Linked DNA regions of Homo sapiens: all the other regions are linked to region 1. Evidence: fine-mapped expression QTL. A gene starts in region 1. Each other region holds a variant in brackets. All regions are shown on one strand. Distances are between the middles of the regions.

Region 1 (6,359 bases):
TGTGACTCCCCATCTTCCAATTCGCAAACAAATGAGCAACACACACATGCACAAGGCTACATTATCTAGTATCCAGTAAAATAAATCAAATGGCTAATTACAATACTACATTTACTATACTGTCAGTATCTAGAGGCCAGGAATTGTGCTGTAATTTGTGCTCTAGTGGCAGACATGTAGGAGGTTTGCTGAATGAATTACTGAACACCTAGAGTTGACTCCTGGATAAGCACACTAGGGAAAGCTATGGTCTGGTTACATACCACACACTCACACACGCACGCAGACACACAGTGGGTGAGATTCAGTTTGGTTAAAAATATTCAGTAGCTCTGACTGCCCTGGCAATGGTTTACAACAGCCATTTGGTGGCCTATAGAGAAAAAAGGTGCACTTCTCAGTCTAATTTCTGACAAAGGAAACCCAGCTTCTACTGAGTGGGTTAGATCGAGGGATAAACGCATGACAGACCACTTTCCTGAAACTTTTATCTTTGAATATACTGTTGTTTCCTCTCTCTGAATCTGGTTTGCATAACTGACTGTAACACCTGGTTATGTATGTTCACTGCCCTATCTCCCAAAATTTGCTCCCTCAAGGGAGTAAACAGGGTACACAATGCTATATCTACAATTTCTATATAAACTATGTAAAATAAAGTAGGTTAACTAATATTTCTTTAATATTCAAATATTGGTATATAGTTTCTACAGATATATCTATAGATTCTACATGGTCTCAAAGTTAAAGTTTCGCTCAACAAATCCCAGGCAAGGACTTAAATTACTTTATAATGACAAAATGTAGGTAATGGTGTGGATACACATGTATCCTAAAATGGCTACGCCTATAACAAGGATTCCAAAATTGCCATAAACTAGTCGTAAGTATTTTTGCTCATTACAACGGCATAAAAAGTCAAAGATTAGGACTTCCATTCATTTTTACATGCTAATTTTATTTTTTGGATTCTGAGGATTTTAGCTGATTCATTCCATTTGCAGTAAGACAAATGAGGAGGTTCCTGGTTAGGGCTCAGGTTTTAGACTCTAATAAATCTGAGTTCAAATGTGGATGGTAACATTTAACAGCTGTGTGATACTGGGCAATTACTTAATTTCTCTAAGCTTCAGTTTCCTAAAGTATAAAATGGGGTTAAAAACTATGTAGAAATTAGAATGAAGATAAAAATCAGATAATCTACAAAATGTGCTTTAAAAAGTAGTAAGTCTTGATAATTTTAATACTATAATGCTTGCTGATCCAAGCAACATTTAAAATATAAATATTGCAAAATATTAACGAGATAAAAAGGTGGGAAGAAGCTTCACTCTTTAACAATAAGCAAAGCTTTCAGGAGAATGAATGCAAGCAATTAGTACACAATAACGATTCATCATTCATTCAGTTCTGACTAAATTGTCCTGAAGTGACACATGAAAATAAACCGGCAGGTTTTATTCAGTGACTATGGAAGGTGATTAAGTGCTATGCTATTGCACTTAAAAAAGAGAGAGGAAAAAAAGGAGTAAGTGACGAATGCAACTGAAGTATCCTTCATGCAACCCTTGACAAGCTGTGTTTCCCTAGGAAACAAAGGGTTTACAGCTGCCTATCTTCCACAGCACTTAGTGACAATTTGGGACAATCTCAGCAAAAAGAAATGAGCAGACAAAGACGCTAGAAGGGCTTTGGGATCCCAAAAGTTAATGAAAGACCAAGTGTAAGAAGAGAAATAAAGTAATTCCCTCCAAGCCTAAAGTCTCTCCCGCTCCAATGCCCCCTGTACCCTCTCGGAAAATGGAAAATCCCTAAGGAGTCTACATCATTCCTCTGCCCGTTCCCCCTACTCTCCCCCAACCCTTCACGGATTCCCAGTGAATACCTGGCCTCGGGCAAGCTCCGTTACCTCTGTGAACCAGAGAATCCCAGCTGTAAAATGAGATCTTGATGGTTTCCTGCGGGGTTGCCATGAGAAAGAATCAACATGTACGCAGGTAAAGCAGGCAATACAGTTCCAGGGAGTCAAAAACGGGAGAAATCGTCCCACGACCTGGGGCTTGGGTCTAGATGAAGAGCACAGCATCAGGAGGCCAGGCTTCTAATGCGGCGCAGTCTACAGCGCTGTGGACTCGGCAACTCCCATCACCTGCCGCTGCACAAACACCCTGCTTGCTGCCCCCATAGACCGACCCCCGCCTGACGCCTCCCAGACCCCCCCACCTGACGCCCCTCAGGCCCCCCGCCTGACGTCCCAGACACCCCCACGACCGGATCCCCCAGACCCCCAATCTGACGCCCCACTTCCCCTACTTGACTCCCCACACATCCCCCGCCTGACGACCCCCCGACCCCCGCCTGACGTCCCAGACACCACCCATCTGATCCCCCAGACCCCCAATCTGACGCCCCACACCCCCCACTTGACTCTCCACACACCCCACACCTGCCACCCCACGTAAACCCCGCCTGACACCTCACAGACCCTAACCTGACGCCCCACAGACCTCCCCCGCCTCCTGCCGCCACACACACCCCAAACCCCGCCCCGAACACCCCCCACCTGCCGCCCCACAGATTCCCCCCTCTGACGCCCCACAGACCCCCAACGTGACGCCCTACAGACCCCAACCTGACGTCCCACAGATACCCCGCCTGACGCCCCACAGACCTTCCCCCGGTCTGTTGCCCCACAGACTTCTCGCCGCCTGCTGGACCACACCTTCCACTTGACTCCCCCCACACCGTCAATCTGCCACCCCCCACCCCCCCCACCCCAACCCCCCCCAACCTCCCAACCGCCCCCACCTGCCACCCCACACCCTTCCCACCTGACGTCAAGCCTGAAGCTCAGCCGCTAAGCCGGAAGCTGGCGCCAGAAGATGCCGGTTCCGCCAGCTGCTCGCCGCGCAGGCGCAGGGGAGACCCGGGGCCTTGCAGTCACCGGGCTCAAGCACGCCGGCGCAGCCAGGCTCGCGATGGGAGGTGGGGGGGCCGGCAGCCCCGTGGGGCTGCGGAGGCGGGACCTGCAGGATCCTGGTTAGGGTCTTGAGTACACACGGCTCCTATTGGCCTCGGCAGCAGATGCTCTCTGCAAGCAGTTGATCCACACGCCAGTGGATTTTGTCTCGAGGGAGACCTAAGATCACTTTGTGCTCTGGCTAGTGATAGCCTCTAATTCTTGTTCTCTGTACGTAAAACAGTGGTAACTATACTGATTTCGCTGGTTGTGAAAACTCCCAAGAGAGAACAGGACATCCTCCCAACTCAAAACGTTGGTTGTTTCATTTAAACTTTTAAAAAATAGGCTTTTGCAAACTATATAGAGCTGTTTTTTTTTTTAAATGATGTTTGCTACTGTGGTCTCAGTTCTCTTAATACAGAAATAATACATAACAATACATAACTTACAATATAGAAATAAACCGTTGCATGACCAGAAATCAACTATGGACTCTTCTAGTATCTGTTTAAGGTTTAAAAATAAAGTTATTTAACAAACCTTTATTGAGCACCTATTATTATATAGTAATGGTGCTAGATATTCAGGGTGGAGAGATTATAAACAACCCCAGTTTTTGTGTTCCAGGAGCTGTTGGTTTCCACCGAATTTTTGCTGTGGTCAGTCCTCTTTCGCCATGGAGAAGTGAGAAGTTATTCATAAAGAGGGGTGGAAACAACTTTTAGAACTATTTTATTTTAGCATAAAATATTGCTTTACAATAAAATAAATTTTGCTGCAGTGGGCCCTGATAAAACATATTAGAGCTGTTAAGTGCCCTTAGAGGTTGTGTAATGTATAAAAACCTCCTTTTTCAAAACTGACACATTTCATTCAGTGCTAGTTTGTAGCGGAGGTTCCGTCTAGCCCAAGAACATTCAGTTATTTACTTCGTATGTCTAATTGACCTAATATGCCTGAATATCTAAAATCATCTGTGATGTTGTAAAGTCTCATGATATTGTTTTGTGAGTATCTGCTCTTCAATTTAGTTATCAATTTATTTTGGAGGAAAAATGAATAGTGTTAAGGTAGAGGAGCCTCCACTTGCCCATCTTAGGAGAGGGTACCTATCCGTGTACATTTGTAGCTTGTTCAACCTCTACTGAGCTCCTACAATGTCAGAAGCTGGACTTTGTATTAGTTACATGAGAAGAACCATGAATTATGAAACCAGGCAAACTCCAAATTGATTCAAAGCCCAGTCTCCATTTCATCATGTTATTTTAGTTGATTGGTTCAAAGACAATCAAGGGTTTTTTTCACTAAGTATCTTCTAGAGTTGCCATGATTATTAATTTATTTATGTAAATGGTCTACTTTATATATGCTTGGCACTTATTCCGTGATCAAGATTAGGAAGCTATGATTCAAGAACCCAGCTTTGACCTGGAGCTCTCCATCTGGTAGCAAGACACATATGTTCAATAACAACAACACCACAGGCCGGGCCAGTGGCTAATGCCTGTAATCCCAGCACTTTAAGAGGCTGAGGTGAGCGGATCACTTGAGGTCAGGAGTTTGACACCAGCCTGGCCAACATGGTGAACCCCCGTCTCTACTAAAAAATACAAAAATTAGGCCGGGCCTGGTGGCTCACGCCTGTAATCCCAGCACTTTGGGAGGCCGAGGTGGGTGGATCACCAGAGGTGGGGAGTTTGAGAGCAGCCTGGCCAACATGGTGAAATCCCGTCTCTACTGAAGAAAAATACAAAATTAGCTGGGCGTGGTGGCGCATGCCTGTAATCCCAGCTACTCCGGAGGCTGAGGCAGGAGAATCGCTTGAACCCGGGAGGCGGGAGGTTGCGGTGAGCCGAGATCTTGCCATTGCACTCCAGCCTGGGAAACAAGAGCGAAACTCCGTCTCAAAACAGCAACAAAACAAAAACAAAAAGTAGCGGGGCGTGGTGGCGGGCACCTGTAATCCCAGCTAGGTCAGAGGCTGAGGCGAGAGAATCGCTTGAACCAGGGAGGCGGAGGTTGCAGTGAGCCGAGATCACGCCATTGCACTCCAGCCTGGGCGACAAGAGCGAGGCTCCATCTCAAAAGGAAAAAAAAAAAAACCCACAGATTTATGAAATATCCTCTGTATATATAAAATAGGGGACATAGAATAAGGAAAGCCCAAGGGAGGGGAGGCACACATCTGTAAACAAGTGTGTACACTTCAGTGCACAGGGGGGTTGACAGCGAAGCTAATGAAGCCCAAGTTTTAAGGGCCCATTTTTGCGAACACTTCCAAGGCCTTGAGAGGGGCCCTAACGAGGTGTTCCCATGGTCGTGTACCTCGGTAAAATTTGCAAAAATAAGACAATTTTACATTATTTTTCTTTAAAAGGGCTCTCCAAATGGCACAAGGTTCAGGCCTCACAAAACCTGCATTCGCCCTTGACAGTCCACTCTCGTAGAGGTAAAAGGAGAAAAATAGTTATGGAAGCGCTTTAAATCGTGGACCTCATTGCGACACCCTTAACAACCCTATCAGGCAGAACAAATTGCTCCGCAAACCTGCGGCTTGCAGAGCGATGGTGGACTCCCGAGCTCATCGGGTCCGGCACCTCTTCACCACGGAGGCCTCGGGTACGGAACTGGAGGGAGTCCTGGTGCTCGGAGGAGGGTGGAAGGCCAAGATCCCTAGGTCCTGGAGCAGGGAGCCGGGCCCACGCCGCCGAGGTATCTTTTCCGTCCGGGCCACCGTCGCGGGGGCTCACTGGCAGCGGCTTCTGCGCATGCTCGGAAGAGCGGGCAGGGTTCCCACTCCGGGAGCGGAGACGGAGAACAGGTTATGTGGGAGCCGGCGGGGGCATTTGCCGGCGACACCCGAGCGGGGGCCGGAAGTGGGGCCACAGCTCGCAGCAGGAGCTCCGGGCTAGACCGTGGCGCCGGCAGCGGCCCCTGGGCTGGAGGAGGATGATGAGGAGCGACGGAAGCGACGCGGGGGTACGCTGCTGCGCGGCGCCCGGTTTCGTGCCCGCGGCCGACTGCGCAGCCTGTCCGCGAGTCTGAGTAAGTGCGGCTCGGGGACCCCGAGCCCGCGGGGCCCGAGCGCCGGTCCGCTCCTTCTAGGAGGGTCGCGGGGAGCCGCCGGCTCCTCCAGGCGGGCGCGAAACCCTCCCGGGAGGCTGTGGGGGGAGCCCCGGGGCTAGTGCGGCTTCCCCTGGGGGTCGTGCGGGGGCCGAGCGCCGGGGGTTGTGGAGGACCAGCCCGGGGTGCAGCCCTGCCGGCCGCCCCGACTCCGCTCACCACTCACCAGGGGAAGCAAACTGAAGCCAAATACCTGTTTTGGAAACTAAGGTGCGCGCATTGCCAGAGGCTCGCCGGGTGTCGTTTTGTAATTGGAACCTAAAACGTATCTTAG
Region 2 (6,359 bases), 21 kb after region 1:
AGAGTGAAGGCCATATTTCATTTTTTATAAATTATCTTTCAAGCTCAGATAGCTTAAGAGCAGTTTATATTAAGGAGACCCTTTTCTCCTTGAGGATAGGGATAGGTAAGGTAAACTTGTAAAAAGGATGTCACAGAAGTCACTTTTTAATTAAGTCATGATTGAGATACTGAACTCTTCCACTCATTCTTCTTTCCCATTTTCCTATTATGTTTGATAATTATATGTATTTTTAAAAACTGTGAGAGGAAAAATTAGTCATAACCCTTTTGGGTTATCCACTTAAATTTAGGTATTTTCATATTACTCAGGTAAAGATGGAAATGACAGAGCACAGACATTTATTTTTTAAATTGATAGGGTAGAAAATGAAATGTACTTCTGTTTATTCTTAATACTATATATATATATACACACATAGTTTTAGCAAATTGGAAATAATATATTCATTTGTATGGCAAGATAAATGCAGTCATCTTAATACTAGTCTATACATTTTTGCCAAATGGCGCAAATATACCTCCATTTATATTTTGTATCTTAAAATGTAGTTTAAAAATAGGACCATGTATGAGACACTTTTTTACAAAAAGTGCCGTATATACATATGTAACAGGTGAGTGTGTGTTTAACATAATTTATAATTATTTCTGTCAGTACAGCGTATATGGAAAATTCAAGTTGTTTTTAACATATTCAAGTATGTTCAGTATAAAATAAGTTAATCCCATTTCATAATGTAAATCATATTTTTGTTATTTGCCATATTTTATTTGAAGTGATAAAATTTTATAACTCAAATTTGAATGTCATAGTACATTGTGTGCTAACCATGGCAAGCAAACATTTACATTTGTTTTTTACAATAAATTTCTTTTAAAATATACTTTCTATTTTTCTGTACTGACATATGCAATAAATTGGTACATTAAAAATTTGATTAATGTCTTCAGATAGTTTGTATTCAGTCTTTTTTTAAAAATTGTTAATCTAGAATTTTATGGTAGGACATTAAAATTTCTTCAATGGTTACGTAAAATTCCTGAATTTGCACTGAAATTAATGAATTTTATTCTAGTAATGGTGTGGATAAAAAATAGAAGTTAGATTTATATTTCCTTCCCCGGAGAGTATTATCCTCTTACATATATTTAATTTAGGCTAATATTAAAACTATACATAAACCACTGGTGAATGACTAATCCCTAATGCATTTCTTTAGTTAATTGAATCTAGGAATGAATACATTTTAACTTCATAATTATGTTGCCTTCAGATTTCATAAAATGCTTTTTTTTAAAAATTCTGCTTTTCCCCCCCTCTTGTTTGTATTTTAGTTAATGGTTTTTAATGATCAAAAAATGACCTGATACTAACTCAGCCTTTAGGGGCCTATACCTTGCTTTTCCTAACAAGAAATGTGCATGCTTGAATATGTCAGAAGGAGTTGGATCATAGGAAGTGTAAGATGAATCTTAAATGGTCCCCTGAAAGGGAAGATGAAGAATTCACGTATTGGAGCCCATCTTTGTATGGGTAGATCTAGTGGGAGCTAGGGTCTCTCATGTACTACCCTGAAAGATAGCCAACTTGAATCCCAGGGTGAAGTCATTTTTAGATTACTATTTCTTAAATTTGAAAGATAAGTTTTTTTCACATTCCCATTTCACTCTCCAACTCTTTCATTACATTCTGTTACATACTAAAAAGCATGAACAATTAGATCTGGCTAGAGACTATAACTCCTATCTTACTAAGGGGAGAGGAAGGTAAAGAAATTTTTTGAGTATTTTCAAATATAAGGCCCAGGTGTTGAATGTGTTAATGTCATTGAATCCTCACAACAAACCTTAGAGTGATTTGTAGTCCCATTTTGTAAGAAATGGCTCGGAGTGGTTCAGTAACATGCTCAAGGTTACCTAGAGTGAACCAAGATGTCAATCCAGGTCTCTAATTCTAAATCGAGGACAGCTATTCATTTGCTAATTTACCCAAACAATTTGAAAATTTTGTTCATGTTGGAATAGATTAGAAATATTGAAATGGGTTACAAGTTGGTCAGTTATTTAGGAATCCAAAAGAATTGGCTGTGAATTGAAATAAGTATTATACAGTAAAGTACATGTTTTCAAAGTCATTAAATGTGTGTTTCTATAGGAAAATCTAGATAAGAGTTATCCTCTCAAAAAATCTTGGAGTTGTCTTTTTGTTCCTGATATTTTGAAACACATCTTGCTGTTTTTCCAATAAGATTTATTTTCCCAACATTTCCACTACTACCATACTAGTCCCTGACATTATTTCATAGTAGTCAACATTTTTATTGGGTGATTTTTGTGTTCAAAGTATTGTTCTGACTCCTTTTTGTCGTTTATTCTTAATAACTGAATATGAACTGGATCATTGCCCCATTCTTTGTAACTTACCAGAAAAACTCCTTATCATTCCCTATCCAGTGGTTTTCAGTGGCTGCATTTCTCAGTAGATCAAAGTCAGAGTTCTCATTCTATGGGGTCCTTTACAAACTAAACCTTGTAAAGGGTATCCGTTCTTTCTCTTTCTTGAATCAAACTTACTCCTCTTCTGTGCATTTATTTATATCTGGTGCTTTAACCTCTAGATCCAGTGCCTCCCTCCCACCTCTCTAGGCCTCTGAGTCCCTGACCAAATTTATGGTAGCTCTACCAGTAGCTTTTTTTTTTCTTTTTCTGAACACCCATTGCATTCAAAGCATTTTGTATTTTGATACCTGATTATATTCAATTCATTTCTTTATAATATATTGTCTTTTGATCTGACAGGAATGTCATGTGATTCCTGTCTTACATGGCACCTGGCACAGTGCTGAGCATGTTGTGGTACTAGATACATTTTCTGTATAGAATGTGCACACTGATTATAAAGTTTGTCCAAACTTCCATCTTTAAGAAGAAAGGCACGAAGGCCATTACTTTAATACTTTACATTTCTTAAAAGTTTAGACCTAAAATAGCAACAAACCTGGAAGTTACACACAGCCCAAAGCAATAATTAAAGTGGAAACATTGGAAGTTACCCGTAATTACACGGGTCTGCAGAAAATAAGAGGGGCAATAATTGTGCAGGTCGTATGTTCCCTGAGGGCTCCTTCTTAAGCAGAGCAGAAGAGCCTAGTAACAGTAAGCTCAGGGAGGAGAGGAGCAAAGAGTACAGATGGTGGATGTGAAACAGAGATCAGTGGAGATCAACAAGTGTGGCAGTATCAAGTAGATCTGTTGGATA[G/A]GACAAGAAGAACCAGAAAGTCAGGTGGGCACATTAGTGGAAGGGCAAAGAAGCCCTTGTCGTGGGACATCCAGTTTGGGAGATAGTGACTGTCCCCAGTTTTGATTTCTTTCCGTAATTTTTTTTTTTTTTTTTTTTTTTTTTTTGAGACGGAGTCTTGCTCTGTGGCCCAGGCTGGAGTGCAGTGGCGGGATCTCCGCTCACTGCAAGCTCCGCCTCCCGGGTTCACACCATTCTGCCTCAGCCTTCCGAGTAGCTGGGATTACAGGCGCCCGCCACCAGGCCGGCTAATTTTTTGTATTTTTAGTAGAGACGCGGTTTCACCATGTTAGCCAGGATGGTCTCGATCTCCTGACCTCGTGATCGCCTGTCTCGGCCTCTCAAAGTGCTGGGATTACAGGCATGAGCCACCGCGCCCGGCGTCTTTTAACCCTGTACCCATGGTTCCCTTATTAAAAATTTATCATCATCATTACTTTTTAAACAAATGAAATGACACAGACAGTTGAATTAATGTGACACTGGCATTTTTCTTAGCCTTTTGTTCCAGAGCCTATTTCTTGAGGTATGAGTGAGTTCCAGGCTCCTCTATGCAAAGAGCATGCATGTCTCAAAACACAGGACAGACTGCATTAGGGAGTGTGTGGGAAGGGCAAAATCTCTGGAGACAGTAAATGCTATGGAATGACTATTTGTGCTCTCCCAAAATTCATGTGTGAGATCCTAATCCCCAAAGCAGTGGTATTAGGAGGTGGGGATTTGCGGGGCAGTGACCTTATGAGTGTGGAGGAATGAGGGCTCTCATGAAAGGAAGAGGGCTACTCCTACCTCTCTCTGCCATGTGAGGATACAAGGAGATAGCTGTCTACCAATCAGTAAGAGAGCCCTTACCAGACATCGGGTCTGCCAGCACCTTGATCTTGGACTTTCTAGCCTCCAGAAATGTGAGAAATAAATTTCTGTTTAAGCCATTTAGTCTCTGATACTTGTTACAGCAGCCCAAAGTGAGTAAGACAATAAACAATCCTAATTCTTTCTTAAAAGTGGCCCTGGAGATGAATGAGAGCTGATTTAATAGTTTTTCTTTTTATTATTATTATTATTATACTTTAAGTTTTAGGGTACATGTGCACAATGTGCAGGTTAGTTACATACGTATACATGTGCCATGCTGGTGTGCTGCACCCATCAACTCGTCATTTGGCATTAGGTACATCTCCTAATGCTATCCCTCCCCCCTCCCCCCAGCCCACAACAGTCCCCAGAGTGTGATGTTCCCCTTCCTGTGTCCATGTGTTCTCATTGTACAATTCCCACCTATGAGTGAGAATATGCGGTGTTTGGTTTTTTGTCCTTGCGATAGTTTACTGAGAATGATGATTTCCAATTTCATCCATGTCCCTACAAAGGACATGAACTCATCATTTTTTATGGCTGCATAGTATTCCATGGTGTATATGTGCCACATTTTCTTAATCCAGTCTATCATTGTTGGACATTTGGGTTGGTTCCAAGTCTTTGCTATTGTGAATAGAGCCGCAATAAACATACGTGTGCATGTGTCTTTATAGCAGCATGATTTATAGTCCTTTGGGTATATACCCAGTAATGGGATGGCTGGGTCAAATGGTATTTCTAGTTCTAGATCCCTGAGGAATCGCCACACTGACTTCCACAATGGTTGAACTAGTTTACAGTCCCACCAACAGTGTAAAAGTGTTCCTATTTCTCCACATCCTCTCCAGCACCTGTTGTTTCCTGACTTTTTAATGATTGCCATTCTAACTGGTGTGAGATGGTATCTCATTGTGGTTTTGATTTGCATTTCTCTGACGGCCAGTGATGGTGAGCATTTTTTCATGTGTTTTTTGGCTGCATAAATGTCTTCTTTTGAGAAGTGTCTGTTCATGTCCTTTGCCCACTTTTTGATGGGGTTGTTTGTTTTTTTCTTGTATATTTGTTTGAGTTCATTGTAGATTCTGGATATTAGCCGTTTGTCAGATGAGTAGGTTGCGAAAATTTTCTCCCATTTTGTAGGTTGCCTGTTCACTCTGATGGTAGTTTCTTTTGCTGTGCAGAAGCTCTTTAGTTTAATTAGATCCCATTTGTCAATTTTGGCTTTTGTTGCCATTGCTTTCGGTGTTTTAGACATGAAGTCCTTGCCCATGCCTATGTCCTGAATGGTAATGCCTAGGTTTTCTTCTAGGGTTTTTATAGTTTTAGGTCTAACATGTAAGTCTTTAATCCATCTTGAATTAATTTTTGTATAAGGTGTAAGGAAGGGATCCAGTTTCAGCTTTCTACATATGGCTAGCTAGTTTTCCCAGCACCATTTATTAAATAGGGAATCCTTTCCCCATTGCTTGTTTTTGTCAGGTTTGTCAAAGATCAGATATTTGTAGATATGCAGCATTATTTCTGAGGGCTCTGTTCTGTTCCATTGATCTATATCTCTGTTTTGGTACCAGTACCATGCTGTTTTGGTTACTGTAGCCTTGTAGTATAGTTTGAAGTGAGGTAGCATGATGCCTCCAGCTTTGTTCTTTTGGCTAAGGATTGACTTGGTGGTGCGGGCTCTTTTTTGGTTCCATATGAACTTTAAAGTAGTTTTTTCCAATTCTGTGAAGAAAGTCATTGGTAGCTTGATGGGGATGGCATTGAATCTATAAATTATCTTGGGCAGTATGGCCATTTTCACGATATTGATTCTTCCTACCCATGAGCATGGAATGTTCTTCCATTTCTTTGTATCCTCTTTTATTTCATTGAGCAGTGGTTTGTAGTTCTCCTTGAAGAGGTCCTTCACATCCCTTTTAAGTTGGATTCCTAGGTATTTTATTCTCTTTGAAGCAATTGTGAATGGGAGTTCACTCATGATTTGGCTCTCTGTTTGTCTGTTATTGGTGTATAAGAATGCTTGTGATTTTTGTACATTGATTTTGTATCCTGAGACTTTGCTGAAGTTGCTTATCAGCTTAAGGAGATTTTGGGCTGAGACAATGGGGTTTTCTAGATATACAATCATGTCATCTGCAAACAGGGATAATTTGACTTCCTCTTTTCCTAATTGAATACCCTTTATTTCCTTCTCCTGCCTG
Region 3 (6,359 bases), 24 kb before region 1:
AAAACACAATCTGGAATAAGGTCTATGTACATACTTTACTATGTTGAAACACTAAAAATAGAGACAAAAATTCTAAGGATATTATACAACAGAATTGTGATCATTAACATCCAGCATTTCTTTTTTGAAGACCTGTAGGAAACTCTTAGTGTGTAGCCCAGGAAGTAATTTCTGCTTTAGTCTAGCATGGATTTCGTTTCCTTTAATTTCTGATGATAGTGCACATTTCATTGCAGGCAAATACTCATAGGACAGGTTTCTTTTTAACTCTGATGCCCATTACCATGTTACCATGGGTGTACACAGACATAATATTTTTACATAATGGGTTTTAGTGTGATTAACACCGTGGTAGGGTTTAGCCAATGGCCAAAGTTAAAGACACATATTTAATTTTTAGTTCACAAAAGTGGCAAAAAAGAAAAAGGGATAAAATTAACTAAAAAATACAAGGGATAGTTGTATTAGAGAAACTGAGGATGTAACATTTTGCATGCAAAACGGCTGATGCCACGTATGGATCAGGGTATAAACTGGACTTGAAATATTGAGTGCATTTAGGCAGTGGTGAACTATAGAGATGGTGAAGCAGATGTCTGGGTTAAAATCCTGAATACATACATTACCAGTTTTCTATACTTGAGCAAGTTATGTAACTTATCTGTGCCCCTATAACCTCTTCCATAAAATCAAGTTTAGAATAGTACTTATTTGTGCTTTGGTGTGAGGATTAAGTGAACTAATAGTGTAGGTAAAGAATTTAGGATAATTCTTGACACACTATAAACACTCACTGAAGAATAGCTATTTATTAGCATCATGTATGTCATGTTACAGATTTTGGACTAAATTTTATAACAATATATACATACATAAAATACATAGTATTTTAAAAAGGAAAATGTAATGGCAGTATGAAAAATGATTCAGAAAGAAGGTAGACAAGTTAAGAACACTGTATTTTATTAGATGAATAAGTCTTAGGTTACTCCTTCAAATGGGGAACATAATTACACCTATCTCCCAGAACAAATGAGATAAGATTCATTTAAGTTATTAATAAACTGAGATATTATGGACAAAATGTAGTTGCAAATGTAAGTAAACAACACTATCTTGGTTGGTTGGTATAAATGGTCACTCCCAAATGGGATGGAAAAGGAGGAGATACAGAAAAGATAACATGAGTGAGATTCTCAGATTTAGAGGTAAAATGAAGCCCCCATTCCTTTGCAATTTTTTTTTTTTTTTTGAGACGGAGTCTCACTCTGTCGCCCAGCTGAAGTGCAGTGGCGCGATCTGGGCTCGCTGTAAGCTCCGCCTCCCGGGTTCACGCCATTCTCCTGCCTCAGCCTTCTTAGTAGCCGGGACTACAGGCGCCCGCCACCACGCCCGGCTAATTTTTTGTATTTTCAGCAGAGATGGGATTTTACCGTGTTAGCCAGGATGGTCTCGATCTCCTGACCTCGTGATCCACCAGCCTCAGCCTCCCAAAATGCTGGGATTACAGGCGTGAGCCACCGTGCCCGGCCTCCTTTGCACTTCTATTTCCCCGGTGTTTAACCCCAAATCAGATTAGAATCTCGTGGGAAGAAGGGAGTCGTATTTTCCCTACTCTATAGCTGGACATTATAAACTGGCAGTATTGTGATTGATTTAATGCATTTGCAATTGTTTCTGGGGGACATTTGTTTTTGTATTCAAGAACAAATAAACATAACTTCCCAATCTGTTCAATGTTGGTGGTATCAGAAAAACACAACAGCAATTAACAAACGAGGAGAAAAATCCATATGTCATTAATGCCTAAAATTAGGTGTGTTTGATGCCAAACCATCATTTACTCTTCCTGAGTGTGAGGCACTATGAGTGACAGGAATAGGGAGAAAATGTGGATTCTAGAGTTCACCCAGACCCACACCTGATGCTCAGCGTCATTGCTCTGGATGTGTGTGGACATTCCTGCACTGCAGTGCTCCTGAAAGCAAGACGCCATAAACAAAAACCAAGATGGCACCTCATCAGTGTTGCTCTAATTAGAATAAAATATCCCCATTTTACAAATTGATCTCATACAGTGTAATTGTAAAGCTTTAAGAACAATGTAAACTTAATGCTTTTAAATCTTAAAAAAAACAGAAATAGAAATACTTTATTTCTTAAATCCCTTTGGGAATACACAGCCAGGTTTTTTGTTTTCTTTTTTTCTAAAAAAAGGGGTGAATTTCCAATTCAAGATAAAACTTTCCTTAATGTAGAAATGTTAGAGAACAGCGCTCTCAAAGGCAAAATTCTAAATGTGTCTCCTGGAAACACAAGATGGAAGCAACAACAAAAGAGATAGAGCTTTCAAGTCTTATCTACATTATTCATTAAAACAGACAGAACAACTAGAATTACCAAAAAAACTCCAAAATGAACATTTTCAACAAAACTAGGAGGAAAGTATCCTACAAACTGTGGCATATAAGGGGATGGGGTTATGCCAATTACAACACCAAGAACTGTGTGGACACAGCAGCTGTACTAGACAAAGAAGAAGGAAGACAAGGGGGACTTCTGATGGTTCTAACAAACTGGAAATTCAGAAATTACCAACACTCACTTTCAAAAAGAGGAGTCCCCACTGAAGGTGAAGGATCTGAAAACAGTGCTTAGAATTTGAAGGGACATTTGAAAGCTTGGATGTCAGTGGAGCATTTAGGGCTGGGCTATGGAAGCCTACGTCATTAGGGATTTCTGAAATTCTCAGAGAAGGACAGAGCCTCATATTGAGGGGGATCTGTGGAGGAACATGTCTCCCATTTAACATAACAGAAATGCTGGAAGTAAAGAAAATAGGAAGTTTAGTGATGGAGGAGACAAGAGGAGATGGATAGCTTAAAGTATTGGAGAGGTGGTTACATGAAAAGGCTGCATTTTTAGTATGTTGCAGAAACAACAAGAGAGGAAACCCCGTAAATATGAAGCTAGCAAGTTCACCCTGGCTCATGTCCAAATCTTGAACAACAGAAGCTTCTTTCTAAACGTACAGGAAAATCAATCTTACTTTACTATAATAGCACCATACAAGGTCTGCAGCCCAAATCCATACAAAGATGTTGTAAGAAAGATGAGGTCAAAATATGAGTAACTATTTTAATCTGTTTTAATGCTCCTGATAAAGGCATAACCAAGACTGAGTAATTTATAAACAAAAAGAGGTTTAATGGACTCACAGTTCCACATGGTTGGGGAGGCCTCACAATCACGGCAGAAGGTGAAAACGATGTCTTACATGTCAGCAGACAAGTGATAATGAGAATGAAGTGAATATAAAACCATCAGATCTCGAGAGACTTATTCACTACCACAAGAAGAGTATGGGGGAACCACCCTCATGATTCAGTTACCTCCTACCAGGCACCTC[T/C]CACAACACATGGGAATTATGGGAGCTACAATTCACGATGAGATTTGGGGCATAGCCAAACCATATCAGTGACATTCTATAGAAAATGAAGACACAGCTAAAGAATACAACCAAGAAAGAAAGAAAAAACATATAATCTATCATCTCAAAGAATGCCATAGTAAATTATGAAAATAATTAAATATATGCAGGAAAAGCAATATACATCAAAATTAGAAAACATCAGTACTGAGATATCTGAACAATAGGAGAACATTAAGAGAGAGTTGAGTATGCCCAGAAAATATTTTGAAATAAAAGAAAATGTTATTTCAGAAATTAAGCCTAAACTAAAAGGAACATAAGAGCATAGAAATTATTGTATGAGAAATCAAAATAGAAATAAAAATTTGAAGAAAATGAATCATAAAGCAAGGACATAAGAGATAAAAGGTATTCTAGAGAAAGTGAGAGAAATGGAAAATAAAGAGTAGTCAACATACATATAATGGGAGTCTCAAAGAAGAAAACTAAAGCAGTATTAGAAAAAGTGCTTAAGTGTATAATCCAAGAATCTATTTTGGATAATAAAAGACTTGAACTTATATTTTAAAGAGGCATACAGTGTACCTGGAAGAACTAATTCTGAATGCTCAACACCAAAAAACATTCTAAGAAAATAACTGAAACATTTGAAAAATAAATTATTTTGGCATCTAGGGAAAATCCCTTCCTTAAAAGAAAAAGATACCAAGACTTTTGATAGCAATGCATTATGCTAGATACAATGAAATAATGAGTTAAGATATTTAAATGAAGAAAATGTGAGCCTTTGATTTTATTTCCTCTTAACTAAACTTTAGACATAAAAGTCATGGTAAAGCTATTATAAAAATGAAATAATTTGGGAAGTTGTTTCCATAAGTATTACCTGATGAATCTGTAGAAAACAAGTCTCAATCCACCAACAAATAATCAAAGAAGTTTTGACACAATAATATTCATTGAAACATTTTAAAACATGGACATAAGAATGACAATACATATAATGCTAGATATATACAATTATAAAAATGGGAAGAGAAGGGAAAGAATGTAGGGAAAGTAGAAGGTATTTCATTTTAGGTGCTAACTGAAAGTAAAGAATATTCTATCAAAATACAAGCCAGAGGAGACAAAAAAAAAAGTCAGGGCCATATTTAATTCCAATATAGCCCTAATAGAGAACTAAATAGCTAGTACATTTTAAAAATGTAAGAGAAAAATAAAGCATTAAAGGTATTATTATATTTAGTTGTAAAGTTCACTCATTGAAAACAAAACAAATATTTCAAATTGCCAAAAATAATTGTTGAGAGGCAGTTAAAACATGCAAAAACAAAATAAATCATTCTTTGTAAGACTCAAACCACCTTAAAATATTAAAATCCAACAATGCAGCAGGAGGCCTCTTTCTGACCCATCCTTATCAATTCCTCTCTATCCTTAAAGTACCAACTCAAGTGCCACTTTCTTTCCTGGATCATCTCAGAAAAAAGAATCTTCCAAATATGGACACATCACATTTAATATCACTCTGCTTAGTTTAATATATGATCAAATATTGCAATCATATTTCTTTTTCTAAATTAAAAACTCTTAGTGGATAAAAATTTTCTGATATCTGAACCCACACTGTGCCAAGCATCATGCTTTTGCACATAGAAGGTATATAATGAACCTATTCTGAGTTAACCTGTGAATGAAAATGGGATTACATCACAACACTGAAACAGTGTAAATAAGCTAAGCTGATAGATAAAGAACTTTTCAGTGACTGGCCATAGAATGTAGAAGATCAAAAGCTTCTACGAGAAGACTCTTATCTTGGGATTTTAAGAGAACCCAGTCTAATTAGGGAGAGCTAAGAATGACTAAAGAAAAGCACATAAAAACTAGACTATAATGGCAAAAATCTCATGGACATATGAGACCTTAAATGCATGTGTCCCAATCTCCCATGCTTTGTTGTTTCTGTCTGCAGAATTCAGCGGGCTTGGCCACCTTGAGTGGGCTTCCAATATACAGATAACTCAGCTCTGGAGGCAGTTCGTCCTATACTTAGTCTGATATTCTGTTCTCCTATTGTGGAAAAATCTGCCATTTTCAAATTTCAGTATTCCTATTCTCCTCCGGAAGTCATCAGGAGAGAACACATTCCCTCTGCTCATGTCAGTTCCTCAGAATTTAAAGAAAGTTGCCATGTACACTGAAAATTTTCCTGGTCAAACTTCAAGGCTTCCCTGGTAACTGTCCTATCACTGTTCTGTATTTCAGATTTCACCCCCAAAATGAGTTACCCAGGAATGAATTCCATCAGCATGCATGTGAAGCTGATTCATGCAGGTAAATATGTTCCAGCAGGATTTGACAAAGCCAAACTCTACAGCTCTGACTTATGCCTCAACAAGGACACCTAATCCAGTTTTACCCCAGTATGTTGCTGATGAAAAAAACCCAACCCTGTACAACATTTGAAGAGATTTTTTCAGAGCCAAATGTGAGGGCTTTGACCTGTGACACAGCCTCAGGAGGTCCTAAGAATATGTGCCTAAGGTGGTTGGGTTAAAGTTTGATTTTATATATTTTAGGGGGCAGAAGTTAAAGACAGACATCAATCACTACATGTAAGGTGTACACTGATTTGGCCCGAAAAGGTGGAACAACATGAAGCAAGTGTTTCCAGATCGTAGGTGGATTCAAAGATTTTCTGATTGGCAATTGGTTGAAAGAGTTAATTATCTAAAGACCTGGAATCGATGGTGGCTGCAGCCTATTTGAAGCGGCCACTGTGAGGATGCCAGCTGCAGTGGGGGAAGTGTGGCTGGGCGCTCTGTGGAGCCAGCAGGGGCCGGGAGCAGGAGATCCCAGTGGGAGCCCCATGCCCTACCAAGTTGGCAGGGTGGGAGCCCATGCTCCTGGGTGCAACTGC
Region 4 (6,359 bases), 32 kb before region 1:
GGGGGCAGATTTTTAAAAATAAACCTTTTAAAATTTTAGAATAGTTTTTTTTTTTTTTTTTTTTTTTGAGACGGAGTCTTGCTCTGTCACCAGGCTGGAGTGCCGTGGCGCGATCTCGGCTCACTGCAACCTCTGCCTCCCAGGTTCAAGCGATTCTCCTGCCTCAGCCTCTCGAGTAGCTGGGACTACAGGTGCGTGCCACCACGCCAGGCTAAGTTTTTGTATTTTAGTAGAGACGGGGTTTCACCATGTTCACCAAGCTGGTCTACTCTCCTGGCCTCGTGATCTGCCCACCTCGGCCTCCCAAAGTGCTGGGATTACAGGTGTGAGCCACTGCACCCGGCCTAGAATAGTTTTATGCTTACAGAAAAGGTGCAAAGATAGTAGAGTTCCCATAGCCCCATTCCCAGTATCCCCTACTATTAACGTTTGATGTTAATATGGTACTATTAAAATAGTATTGTCACAATTAACAAGCCAAGGTGGATGCATTGCTATTAACTAAAATTCATACTTCATTTGAATGTTCTTAGTTTTTCATCAAGGTAAATTTTCTGTTCTGGATCCCATCCAGAATGTCACATTACAATTATTCTTCATGTCTCCTTACACTCCTCTTGGCTGTGACAGTTTCTCAGACCTTTTTTGTTTTATGATGGCCTTGACAGTTTTGAGAAGTATTGGTCAGGTATTTTGTAGAATGTCTCTCTATTTAGATTTGTCTCATGGATTTTTCAAGATTATGCTTGGATTATGAATTTTGGGGGAGAAAATCACAGCAGTAGAGTGTTATTCTCACATATCATATCAAGGGTCCATGCTATCAATACGGTTCATCACTTTCCATGTTGACCTTGACCATCACCTAAGACAGAGTCTGCCAAATTTCTCCACCATAACATTAGTTGTTTCCCACTTCCTTTTCTTTCTTTCTTTTTTTTAATTTTTTTTTTTTTTTTATTTTTGAGATGGAGTTTCCCTCTGTTGCCCAGGCTGGAGTGCAATGGCACAATGTCAGCTCACTGCAACCTCCACCTCCCTGGTTGAAGCAATTCTCCCACCTCAGCCTCCCGAGTAGCTGGGACTATAGGTGTGCGCCACCACGCCCAGCTAATTTTTGTATTTTTAGTAGAGACGGGGTTTCACTACATTGGCCAGACTGCTCTCAAACTCCTGACCTCAAGTGATCCGCCCGTCTTGGCCTCCCAAAGTGCTGGGATTACAGGCATGAGCCACAGAGCCTGGCCTGTTTCCCACTTTCAATACAGTAAGGCAAGATTTTAACCACCCCAAACCTCGGTTTCTTCTTTTTGTAAAATAAAGATAAAACTACCTCAAAAAGTTTTGGGAGCAATTCTACAAGCTGTTCTTAAATAACTTCCCTGGATTGCTGAAGCCTTTAGTTAATTAACAGCATGCTGAAAAGGTTGATGTTGACAAGTTACCAGTGTTTACATAGCTTTTGGAGGGGAGGATGTTTGAGGTCTTTACTCAGCCTTTCTCAGTGATATCACCTGATCTCACATCTAATTTTACATTCTTAATTTTTGAAAATTTTGTTATAGAAAGGCTGGGAAGTTGTATAAGTTTCAGGCCTCACAAAAGTTTAACTGTCTGTGGTATCAAGCGGTTATTTTAAGTTCTTGACAGGTATTCACACATTTAATCTTGACAACAGTCCCTTGAGGGAGATCCTGTGTTGTCACAATTTCACCTACTCGTACACTTAACCTTGGAGTTACTAAGTTAACAGCCCAGAATCACACAGCTTTTTCTTAGTAAACTAATTTCCCAATGTCACTCAGCCAGCAATATTACTCAGGCACTCTGGCTCCAGAGTCCAAGCACATAAACAACACTGCAACAACTTAAAATTGGTAGCAGGTGCATCCAGCTATTGCCAATACCAGGCCCCACCCAAACATGTTAAATCATTTAGTTTCCGCAGTTCGTTTTTGGATATTTCTAAAGTTAACTTTATTTCCTCCTCCACTTATCCTTGCTGGCCCAGGATTTTTTTCCTTTGAAATTAGACATTATTGACCTACCATGGAGCTTCTTTTTATCTAAATATTTATGAAAAATCAGCACTCTTATAGAATATTTACTTACCAACTTGTTTTTATGGAAACACTACTAAAACAAAAATACAAGCATAAAAGTTTAACAGAACAATAATATCTAGGCAATTTGTTAACAGGTATTTAATGTATACTATTATACTGTAAGTTACAATTAAGGGAGAAACCTAAAAATGTATATAAAAGACTGAATTTCCCCCAAAGAACTATTGAGACTATCTAGATAAATCAGAGAGTGATTAAGTACCAAATTACATGTGTTATGCTAGAATCACAACGGCAGTTCCAAGAGGGGGAGGTTTAGAGGGGCGAATGGAGTAGGTGAGACTAGGACTGAGCCATGCAAAATATTATGGAGATTTGCAGGCAGAGGGGTGGGTCAGGGGTGCTCCGGAATCTCTGTGAACATAGGCAATGATAAAAATGGTAATACATGTATATTTCCTGTATTTTTCCAGGAATGATTTATTGTAGACTGGTGAGGGAGCTGGACCAATGGAGAGAGAGCCTGATGATTAGAACAAGGATATCATGTTGAGAAATGGAAGCATAATTTGAGTGTTGAAGAGGAAGCAATGATGAATAGATAATGGGGATCATTACATGAGGTGTCTTTCATTACCAGGAAATGAGGTTCTCTGGTTTCTCAGCCCTAAGCCATTTTTTAAAATTGTTCTCTCTCTCTCTCTCTTCTGATTTTTGTTTGTTGCTCTTAATAGGCATGGTCTTCAAGCAAGATTTATGATCTACATGGGGGTTAGGAATGCTAAACTGCACCAAGTTATCAGGCTCATCCTAAGGGTTCCATAGAGAAGACAGAAAACAGGTATCACATGATTTGGTTACAATGCATATGATGTATGTTGCTAGCTTCATAACTCATAGTTTCTACCATTTTCACAAGGAACACCTGGTGAATTTTCACTTTTTAATCTTACTTCATT[C/T]TGATATGTGGTGCTACAAGATCAGTTCTTTGTTTAAAGAAGGTGGGAAAAAATGCGTGTATTAGGGCTCATTCCCTTAGAATTCTTCTTTGTAGACTGGGCCACGTCATCATTTTTACCTTAGACTTTACAGCAGAGAAGAATAAGTGAAGCTCTGTGATATTCCAATTTCTATTTGGTGTCAGCTATACTATCAATAAATTACTAGATTATGCCTGACCACATACAACTAGAGAAAACATAACTCCCACTTTCCCGTTAATAAAAACATGAAATACATAAAGGAATTGTTAAAAAATTAAATCGTTAAAATTAAACTTAACTTTTTAGTAAATTAACTTACTGAACAATTAAAATGAGCTAAGAGGAAAAAAGGACGTATCTTAAGAATTCTACTTGGAGAGCAAAATAAGATTTCTGATTTTGGTCTTTAGTTTCAGTACCCAGCATCATCTTTGAAGTTCATACCAGTTCCATTTATTTAGAACTTTTGCCTCTCAAAAGTATTAGAAAAACTCAGAAAAACACAAAACAAAGCACCCATAATTACATCACTTATATATAGTGCTCACATTTTGACATATGATTACAGTTCTATTTTTCTATGCATTTAAAATATACTTTTTAACTTACATATTATATCAACTGTATTGCACGTATGTGACTAAATCTTCCTCAATAGTTCCACAGTTATGTATCATATGAAATGTTCTATTTTCATTCATCTGTTTAGATCACCCTAGATTTTTTCCTATTGCGAATAATACTGTGATAAACATCCTTGCATATACTTCTTTCCATATCTGTGGGATTTCATTTTAAAGAGTGGTGCTAACCAAGAACTAGATCATGAAAACTGTAATTCGCTCTTACTCTGTTCAAATAAATGAATATAATTAAAATTATGCATATCATCTCCACCTCTCCCATCAGGTTTTCAATAGTAACTGATAATTAGCAACTGCCTCTACAGTGACCTCATTTACATAATTAACAAAATCCAATAAGGCTGAAATTTATTGTCCTGTTCAGTGAATCATAATCTGGCAGCTGTTACTACCAAGGCAGGCATTTGTGCCTGGCTGTTCACAGCTTGTCTGAAAAAGCATTTTGCTGGTGATATCCTCATGAACTTATTCTTAGGGGGCAATATGATAAGAAACACATCACTAGATTTCTCTATTGAAAAAAGTTCAAATTCATTTTACACTGGGGATTCCCATACAAAAAAAAGGACAACTCCTTCAATTAATAAGTGTACGCTAAAGAAAACCAGTATATTTGGAGAACTCCCATTTTGAGAGACACTCTAGAGGGAAACTATCTTACCCAAGCATCTCCTCTGTGACATTGATCAGAGAAAAACAACACTGCTGAGAGGAAACTGAACCCATTTGGCAAGTTCTTCTTTCATTTCCCATCTCAGAGCCAATCTGGCGTATCCATTTTTGACATGCCAGGTCTTATCTTTTTATTTACATTTACAGTACAAGAACTAATGCCCAATTGTGTTCATTGTCAGTGCAATAGTAGCAAGAACAGAAAGCAGTGAATCTCTGTTGTGATTCGACTAAGTTCTTAGAATTATTACTTATTCCTGAAAAATAAGACAGAACATCATTTGAATTTGGCTTGTTCTGATGTCAAACATGAATGCCAGCTAATTGTAATCATTATAAAAATGTGTCAAGAATATAGTCAAGTCTTCTTAATCCTGGCTGTTTCAGTTAGGTGACACGCCTTAAACCCCAACAGAACTTCCATGTGATTAAAATCGCTTTTTCATGCTATTTTTAATATTTTTAATAAACATGTTTTTTATTTTTAATTTCTACATATTAAATAACCAAATTGATATAGCTTCTCAATACTACAATTCATACAAAGATAACACTTTTATATTAGAAAGATGGTGACTGCACAGTCACACAGGCAAGGGCAATAATGTTTCCTACGCCTCTATGCAGACAACAGGGCCTGTGTTTTGGAAAGCTCGAAGGACAGCAGCGATTATAATTATTGGTGTAAATAGGTATTTCATTTGTTGGTCCTTTTTATTTTCAATAGATAATACACAAACATGGAACAAAATTTAGAGGGTACAAATGAATGTGTAAAGAGAAAGGCTAAACTTCTGTTTATCACCTCTGTCTCCCAAGATCCTCAGTTTCCTTCTTTGGAGGGGACACTTTGACAGTTCCCGTGCACCTCTGAAGAGAGCTGATACCATGTGTGAGCACACTCGTTCATTCCTCTTTTATAAAACAATGCAAATGGTGAAAGCCTCCACATAGTGTCTTACACCTTCTGTTTTTTTCTACTTAATGTATCTTGAAGATCCTTTCATAGCAGTACACATCAAAATGCCTTATTCTTTTTAAATACAGTCATGTGTTGCTTAACGACAGGGATACATTCTGAGAAATGGGTTGTTAGGCAATTTTGTCATTTTTAGGAATGCCATAAAGTGTATGACACAAACCCGGACGGTACAGCCTACTACACACCTAGGCCATTTGCTACAGCCTATTGCTTTTAGGCTATAAACCTGTACTGCATGCTACTCTACTGAATACTGCAGGTAATTCCAGCATAAAGGTATGCATTTGTGTATCTAAACATAGAAAGGGACAGTAAAACTACGGTATTATAATCTCATGGGATCACTGTTGTACATGCAGTTCTTTGTTGCCTGAAGTGTTGCTATGCAACACATGACTATGGTTGCATATTATCATTGCCTGATATATCATCATGTATTTAATCAAAATTCTGTTAATTAACATTTAAATTACTTCCTCTTCTTCAGCATTATAATTCTACAGTAACTAACCTTGAAAATATCTTTTTGTACATGTGTAACTATATTTATATGATAAATCTCTAGAAATTAAATTACTTCGTCCAAGCATAAATGCATTTTAAATTTTGATGATAGGAACTGCCATGCGCCCCCCGATAGTAAATCAGAATCAACACATAATATAAACATAAATATTTCTGTCAAAAAAGGATGAGAGTATCTATTTTTCTCACGCCCTTACCAAACAAAGTATTATTAAAGTTTTGCTTTCCAAATTTGATAACAATAAGAAAAATATGACTTTCGTTTGTCTTATTTTGTTATGGATGGTATGGATATCTTTTTATAAATATTATAGTCATTTGTTTTCTTTAATCTATATTTTATGGTTTTGAATATTTTTATATATCATTTTCATTGTTATTGTTTAGTAAATAGCCTTTCTTACAGATGCTCTGCCTATAATAAAGAAAAATGTCATTATTCTGCTATTTTAATACAAAATTTTTCCTATTGCATCAACTCTTTTGA
Region 5 (6,359 bases), 45 kb after region 1:
CGTGTATACCTATGTAACAAAACTGCACGCTCTGCACATATAAACCAGAACTTGAAGTGTATATATATATATATATATATACACACACACAAACACACACATACACATATATGTGTATATATATACATATATATGTGTATATATACACATTATATATAATGTGTATATATACACATATATATATGTGTATACGTATACACATATATATGTGTATATATACACATACCATAAAGCTGAAACCACTAAAAAATTATAGCATTGAAGACAAAGCTATAATATAAACACAATGATGTCCAAAAGAATTAATTCTCATCCAAAAGAATTTAAAAAGGGATAAGCCAAAACAATCCAGGTAATGAAATTAAATAAAGATAGCTAACACTGATGATTAATTATATATTGTTAGTTAAAACGTGAGCAAAAGTCATTCTTTATATAGACATATGTATATATAAAGAATGACTTTTGTATATGTATATGTATATATGTATATGTATATATGTATATGTATATGTATATGTATATATGTATATATGTATACATATATATGTATATGTATATGTATATGTATATGTATATGTATACGTATACGTATATATGTATATATGTATATATACATATATATGTATATATAAAGAATGTATATATAAAGAATGTATATATAAGAATGTATATATAAAGAATGACTTTTGTATATGTATATGTATATATAAAGAATGACTTTTGCTCACGTTTTAACTAACAATATATAATTAATCATCAGTGTTAGCTATCTTTATTTAATTTCATTACCTGGATTATTTTGGCTTATTCCTTTTTAAATTCTTTTGGATGAGAATTAATTCTTTTGGACATCATTGTGTTTATATTATAGCTTTGTTTTCAATGCTATAATTTTTTAGTGAGTACTGCTCTGGCTCATATGTTTGGTATAAGTTGTTTTCCCTTTTGTGATTTTCTAGGTAATTTCTAACCTCAGTTTCGCATACTTCTTTGACACAAACTTGACCTATGAATGTATTTTTACATTTTCAAGTAAGCAACTCTTTGATCACCTTTTTGTAATGATTTCTATTTTTATGAGATTATAATCAATGAATGGGATATATCACTTAGGTATTACTAAGTAATAAACCACCCTACTTTAGTGCCCTGTAACAGCTCCCCTTTATTATTTTTGTAATTCTGTGAGTTTTTCAGGTGGCTCTTGTGCCAGCTCCACCTGAGTTCATGTGTGTGGCCGCATGCCTCTGACAGCCAGGCTGGCTGGGGGTTCAAGATAGCCTCACCCACACATTTGGCAGTAAGTGCTGGCAGGTGGTTCAGGCACTTTAGTGGTTTTCAATGTATCTTCTCATCCTCCAGTAAGCTAGACTGACTTTCTTGCATGCGGGTCTCAGGGAGGCAGTCCTGTGTGTTCTACTGGTCAAAGCAAGCAATTCACAAGGTCAGTTCAGATTTAGGGGATAAGGAGACAGACCAACCTTATTATCAGTCACATTGCAAACAGGCATGCCACCAGAGAGTAGTTCTTCCAGTCTTTGCAAACTATCCGTCATGGTAGCCTGTAAAAGACTACTTTTTAAAGTTGTCCATTTTGATTAAAATTTTAAGTATCACTTGTGCATTTGGGGAAAAAGTTATCTTTTTGATAGACATAATTTATTATCTCCCTCTCATTTTTTAATATCTTTGCACTAAGTGTTATAATGTTAAATAATATAGCATCAATAACCATAAAGCTGAAACCACAAGAAAAACACCTGGAAATACACAGGAAAAAACATTAGATATGGGAAATTTTACTCATCTCTATTATTCTATGACATCATATAAACAAAAATGCAGATATTGTAGACTAAAATAATAAAATTATTAAGGATATCCCTTCTTTTCAAGTAGCTATGTTACATTCACACAAATGACAATACTATTAATCCCTAAAGAAACTCTGATTAAGCTTTATAAGTAGAAATTGTGAGAGAAAATTATCTGAATGCAATACGATAAAATAGAAGTTAGTGAGAAAAATGAAGAAAATTTCTGGAAATTAAAACAAATTAACAAATATCTCTTAAATAACTTTTAAGTCAAATTGGAAAGCCAAACAAAATTTTTAGATTAATTTATATTATTAATCGTTTCTAGAAAATAATAAGCACAATATATAAAAAACACAATAATAATAAAACACAATACATACCTGATATCATTGAATTTTACTAAGCAATGCTCTTGGGAAATTTAATAGCCTATCAACAAATAAGAAAAGAAATGAATGTTTGAACACTCAACTGAAGAAGTCAGACTAAAGAAAACAACAAAACAAACAAGTAGAATGAGACAATTCATAATGATAATAAACAGAACTATCTGCTGATTACTTATTTGACACTAACAAAACAGACAAGTTTTTGCTATTCTTTCAAGAATAAAAGGAGAAATTGTATGCAGACAATTTTTAAAAAAAATGCTTAACCACAGATACAAAAGAAATGGAAAATCAGATGAGAAACTGTTTTGTATAAATTTATCAAGTAAAAATTGAAATCATTTAAAATGATCTTATACAATAGAATTTAACTCCATGACACAGGAGTTTTCTTTTTTCTTTCTGACTTTTTTTCTCTCTGTTTTAATTTTTGTATGCCTAGTACCTAGAACAATACTGAAAGAGTGGATGGTGAATATCCTTCCTTTGCAATTGGTTTAGCTACTTTGTTATTTCATTTTTTTTTTGTATTCAAGAGAAATGCATGTATACTCCAATTTCCCCTTAATTTTACACACAAATTTATTCATAATATCCTCTTACCTGTTTAGGATCTGTAATAGCTCTAAAATGTCCCGCTTTTAAAATTTCTGTTATTGAAATTTCATACTTTCTCCTTTGTACTGTGTCTTACTACAAATTATTAATTTTATTTGTTATGTCAAATAACCAATTTTTAATTCTCTTTATTGTAAAGTTATTATTTATTTCATTAATCTCTTTTATATTTTTTACTCCAATCTTTAAGCTTAATTTGTTTTCACCTTTTAACTTGTTAGGGCTTTGTGACCTGTATGCTCAGATTATTTCTTTCCATTCTTCTTTTTAAAACATGCCATCAAAGATATGATTTTTCTCATAAAAATAGCTTTAAATGCATTTTACAAGATTTTATATACTTTATTTTCATCATATCCCAACAACTCTTTCTATATTCAGTAATACCATCAGACCTTACCTGGGTCGATTTTTCTCAGCATCCTTTCCTTCCTTCCTCCCGTCCTCCCTTCCTTTCTTTCTTTTCTTTCTCGGAGTCTCCCTCTGTAGCCCAGGCTGGAGTGCAGCGGCGCGATCTCTGTTCACTGCAAGCTCCGCCTCCCGCGTTCACACCATTCTCCTGCCTCAGCCTCCTGAGTAGCTGGGACTACAGGCGCCCGCCACCACGCCCGGCTAATTTTTTGTATTTTTTTAAATAGAGACGGGGTTTCACCATGTTAGCCAGGATGGTCTCGATCTCCTGACCTCGTGATCCGCCCAACTCGGCCTCCCAAAGTGCTGGGATTACAGGCGTGAGCCACCGCGCCCGACCTACTTGCTTATTTTTCTTTTCCAAAAAGCTACCCATACAGATTTTCTCAGCATTTTAACCTAGGACTTGATAAGCTAATTCAAACTGTAGTTTCAGCTCTTTCATAGATTAAGAAGCATTATTCTTTTCTCCTGTAAGTTTTTATGTCATTGCCTCTATTTAGTCTATATCCTCTCCCTCCTTTTATGTTCCCATTTTTCTTGCATGTGAGTTGCAAAACACTCTTGAGTTTTGAGATTTTACTTCTATTTGAGCCTGCAGGCCAGTAACTCAGTGCTCAAAAGTGACCATCCTTTTCTTCAATGCATGTATTAAATTATTTAATTGAAAACTATAGAGATATTTTTTAGTTCCTAAAAA[G/A]TTTCTTCAGTTGAATCTTAAGTCCTCTATTAGTTTTTAAAATTCAAGTTGTCTCCATCCCTTTGTGTTGTGTGTATGCTGGGATGTTCTGTGCTCTCCTTCTTTGATGGTTTATCTCTCCCTCTCTCTCTCTTTTTTTTAATTTTCATTGGAAGACGTTTATTTAGTCAGCATTTAACAGAGAATAGCAGAATCCATGAAGGACAAGTGTTCCAGGCACTAGAGATACAATAGGCTAGAAACCACACATTTCTGCACTCATGGAGCTGAACACTCTTAGTTTATCATTTCTTTCTGTACATATCTTCCCTACTTCCACCCTACCCTCTGCCATAATCTTTTTAAAATATATATATAAATGGCTTCATTTTCACATTTCACACAACCACAGCTGTGCATGCAAAAACACTGCAGTCTAGCCACTATTTATACGTCCAGCCACTTCTTGCATCTCTCCCGATATCCCAATTTCAAGCTTTCTCTCTTCAACACCTCCTGTGTTTGATTTGATGGCTCAGCTGGGGCAGTCTAGCCTCAGGAGGTGGGAAATCAAGTCCTGTCTAACCCTATGAGCCAGGATTGGACTAACAGGGAAACTTCTAGTCTACTCTGAGGCATTTGGGGGAGGCTTTTGTTTCTTGTGATCCCCTGATAGTCTCTCAGCTTTAGGGGCAGGGAGGACTAACCCCAAGCACTTACTCCCTTTGTGGGTACTCAGAGGCCCGGGAAACTTGGCATATTCCTGTGAGGCTGATGTTAGCCACTGCCTGGGGCCCACAGATTTCTGCTCAACCATTCTATCTAAGACCCATTGAGACTTGGGTCTCACATATAGTACTGCAAATACTCTCGAGAAATAAACCTCAAACATTATTTTTCTCTATCTAGGGCCAATTAGAGCAAAAAGCCCCTCGCTAACACCCAATTACCTCTAAGTTCTACTGCAATTTGGCTCAGAGAAGAAAGATAATTTACAGTTGTTAGTAAAGGAGAAGAAAGATGCATTCATGTTGCAGTTTTCTCAGAATACACTATATCTCTCTTACTTTTTCTTAGTTTGAAATTATTCCCTTCTTACACGGAGATGCACAAATTCTAATTTTGCATTTTTTTTTCTGAAAGAGTTGACTACGTTTTTTTGGTTCCACATAGAAAAGACAGATTCATTAAACACATCTTCACATAATAATAATTTTTCTTAAGATTCCTAACATATTAAAGAGCTTAAATTATTAAAAAATAGCTATATTAAAACTGGATGTAAGACTCTTTTTTTTTTTTTTTTTGAGATGGAGTCTTGCTCTGTCGCCCAGGCTGCAGTGCAGTGGCACAATCTCGGCTCACTGCAAGCTCCACCTCCCGGGTTCACGCCATTCTCCTGCCTCAGCCTCCCAAGTAGCTGGGACTACAGGCGCCCGCCACCGCGCCTGGCTAATTTTTTGTATTTTTAGTAGAGACGGGGTTCACCGTGGTCTCGATCTCCTGACCTCGTGATCCACCCGCCTCGGTCTCCCAAAGTGCTGGGATTACAGGCATGAGCCACCGCGCCCGGTCAAGACTCTTCTTAACAAATGAATTAGTTTTTCTAGCTTGTGGGTGTTGACCTTTTCTCTTTACACCGTAGTTTCAAAAAGTGGACATTTGGAAAATTTCTGAAAGAACATTTAAAACTCTCTTATACAAAGTTCTTTGGTTGTAAGAATACAATTCTTACAACTAGCAGAATTAGTATGTCTTTGGATCCTAATCAACTGCTAATCTAACTAGCAGATTTAGGATGTCTTTGGATGAATTAACACCTAATCTTGTCTCACATTGGCGTAAACAGTTAGGAAATAGTATGATCCAAATAACAAGCATGAAGAGTTGAGTAATCCAGCAGGACAATTATGTCCTTACAGAGCCAGGTTCCCTCCAGAATCCTGTTCTTGCCGTCACTGTTTCAGTCTGGGCCTGACGGCAGTTGCAGGATGGCAGTTCTCGGTGATCACAGACAGGCTTGTAATGTCTAGTGGAAGAAGAGCATCTCTTTCTTGTCAATCTCTTTAAGAATGAGGAACTCTTTCTTAGCAGTGCCCCCAGGAGACCACCTCACAACCAACTGTAAAAAGCCTCTCTCATTTGTCCCTCCTTAGCAATCAGTGGTGATGTAGATGGAGTCATCGTGAGTAGATTTCATGATTAGGACTTCCCTAAAGTGTGAGATTATGTCGGCATCCCACAGAGATAGATATCTAAACAAAGTCAGCGTCTAGATTTGGGGCAAGAAAGATTCTGTTAAGATGGCGAAGCAGAATTGGGCATACAGATGCTTCTGGCTTCAGAGCCTACACTCCTAAACCCATCCTCTTCTCAACATTCAATAAGCGAAATTTCAAATAAATCATTAAAATATTTGCAGTCCATTTAATTTTAATT

Which allele goes with the higher level. Positions count from the first base shown, and alleles are read on the strand shown. Sizes are in standard deviations (SD) of each study's normalised expression. Not every link is listed here.
With allele G in place of A in region 2, the expression in visceral fat of the gene that starts at base 2,884 in region 1 is higher (small effect, 0.24 SD a copy in GTEx).
For the expression in cerebral cortex of the gene that starts at base 2,884 in region 1, C is the high allele of the variant in region 3 and T is the other (small effect, 0.39 SD a copy in GTEx).
For the expression in transverse colon of the gene that starts at base 2,884 in region 1, allele G in region 5 goes with a higher level than allele A (small effect, 0.30 SD a copy in GTEx).

What was found. PIP is the estimated chance that this variant, and not a neighbour inherited with it, causes the effect.
Region 2: its variant is the best candidate, but not a certain one, in a credible set for the expression of LIG4 in visceral fat (GTEx, PIP 0.61).
Region 3: its variant is the best candidate, but not a certain one, in a credible set for the expression of LIG4 in cerebral cortex (GTEx, PIP 0.52).
Region 4: its variant is the best candidate, but not a certain one, in a credible set for the expression of LIG4 in whole blood (INTERVAL, PIP 0.51).
Region 5: its variant is the best candidate, but not a certain one, in a credible set for the expression of LIG4 in transverse colon (GTEx, PIP 0.72).

The regions. Positions count from the first base shown.
Region 1 is chr13:108,212,653-108,219,011 of GRCh38, forward strand. LIG4 (DNA ligase 4) reads right to left here and starts at 2,884. Exons shown (of 3, transcript NM_206937.2): 1 at 2,832-2,884; 2 at 1,886-1,958. ABHD13 (abhydrolase domain containing 13) reads left to right here and starts at 5,740. Exons shown (of 2, transcript NM_032859.3): 1 at 5,740-6,007. RefSeq lists enhancers at 2,809-3,103, 5,413-5,742 and silencers at 2,947-3,086, 6,023-6,262.
Region 2 is chr13:108,233,304-108,239,662 of GRCh38, forward strand. It overlaps ABHD13 (abhydrolase domain containing 13), which reads left to right. Exons shown (of 2, transcript NM_032859.3): 2 at 1-940. Among named protein-coding and RNA genes, the nearest start is that of ABHD13, 18 kb to the left of the region's middle. The variant G/A (reference allele first, on the strand shown) is at 3,262.
Region 3 is chr13:108,188,242-108,194,600 of GRCh38, forward strand. No RefSeq gene overlaps it. Among named protein-coding and RNA genes, the nearest start is that of LIG4, 24 kb to the right of the region's middle. RefSeq lists an enhancer at 6,318-6,359. The variant T/C (reference allele first, on the strand shown) is at 3,410.
Region 4 is chr13:108,181,009-108,187,367 of GRCh38, forward strand. No RefSeq gene overlaps it. Among named protein-coding and RNA genes, the nearest start is that of LIG4, 31 kb to the right of the region's middle. The variant C/T (reference allele first, on the strand shown) is at 3,026.
Region 5 is chr13:108,258,076-108,264,434 of GRCh38, forward strand. No RefSeq gene overlaps it. Among named protein-coding and RNA genes, the nearest start is that of TNFSF13B, 8.5 kb to the right of the region's middle. The variant G/A (reference allele first, on the strand shown) is at 3,942.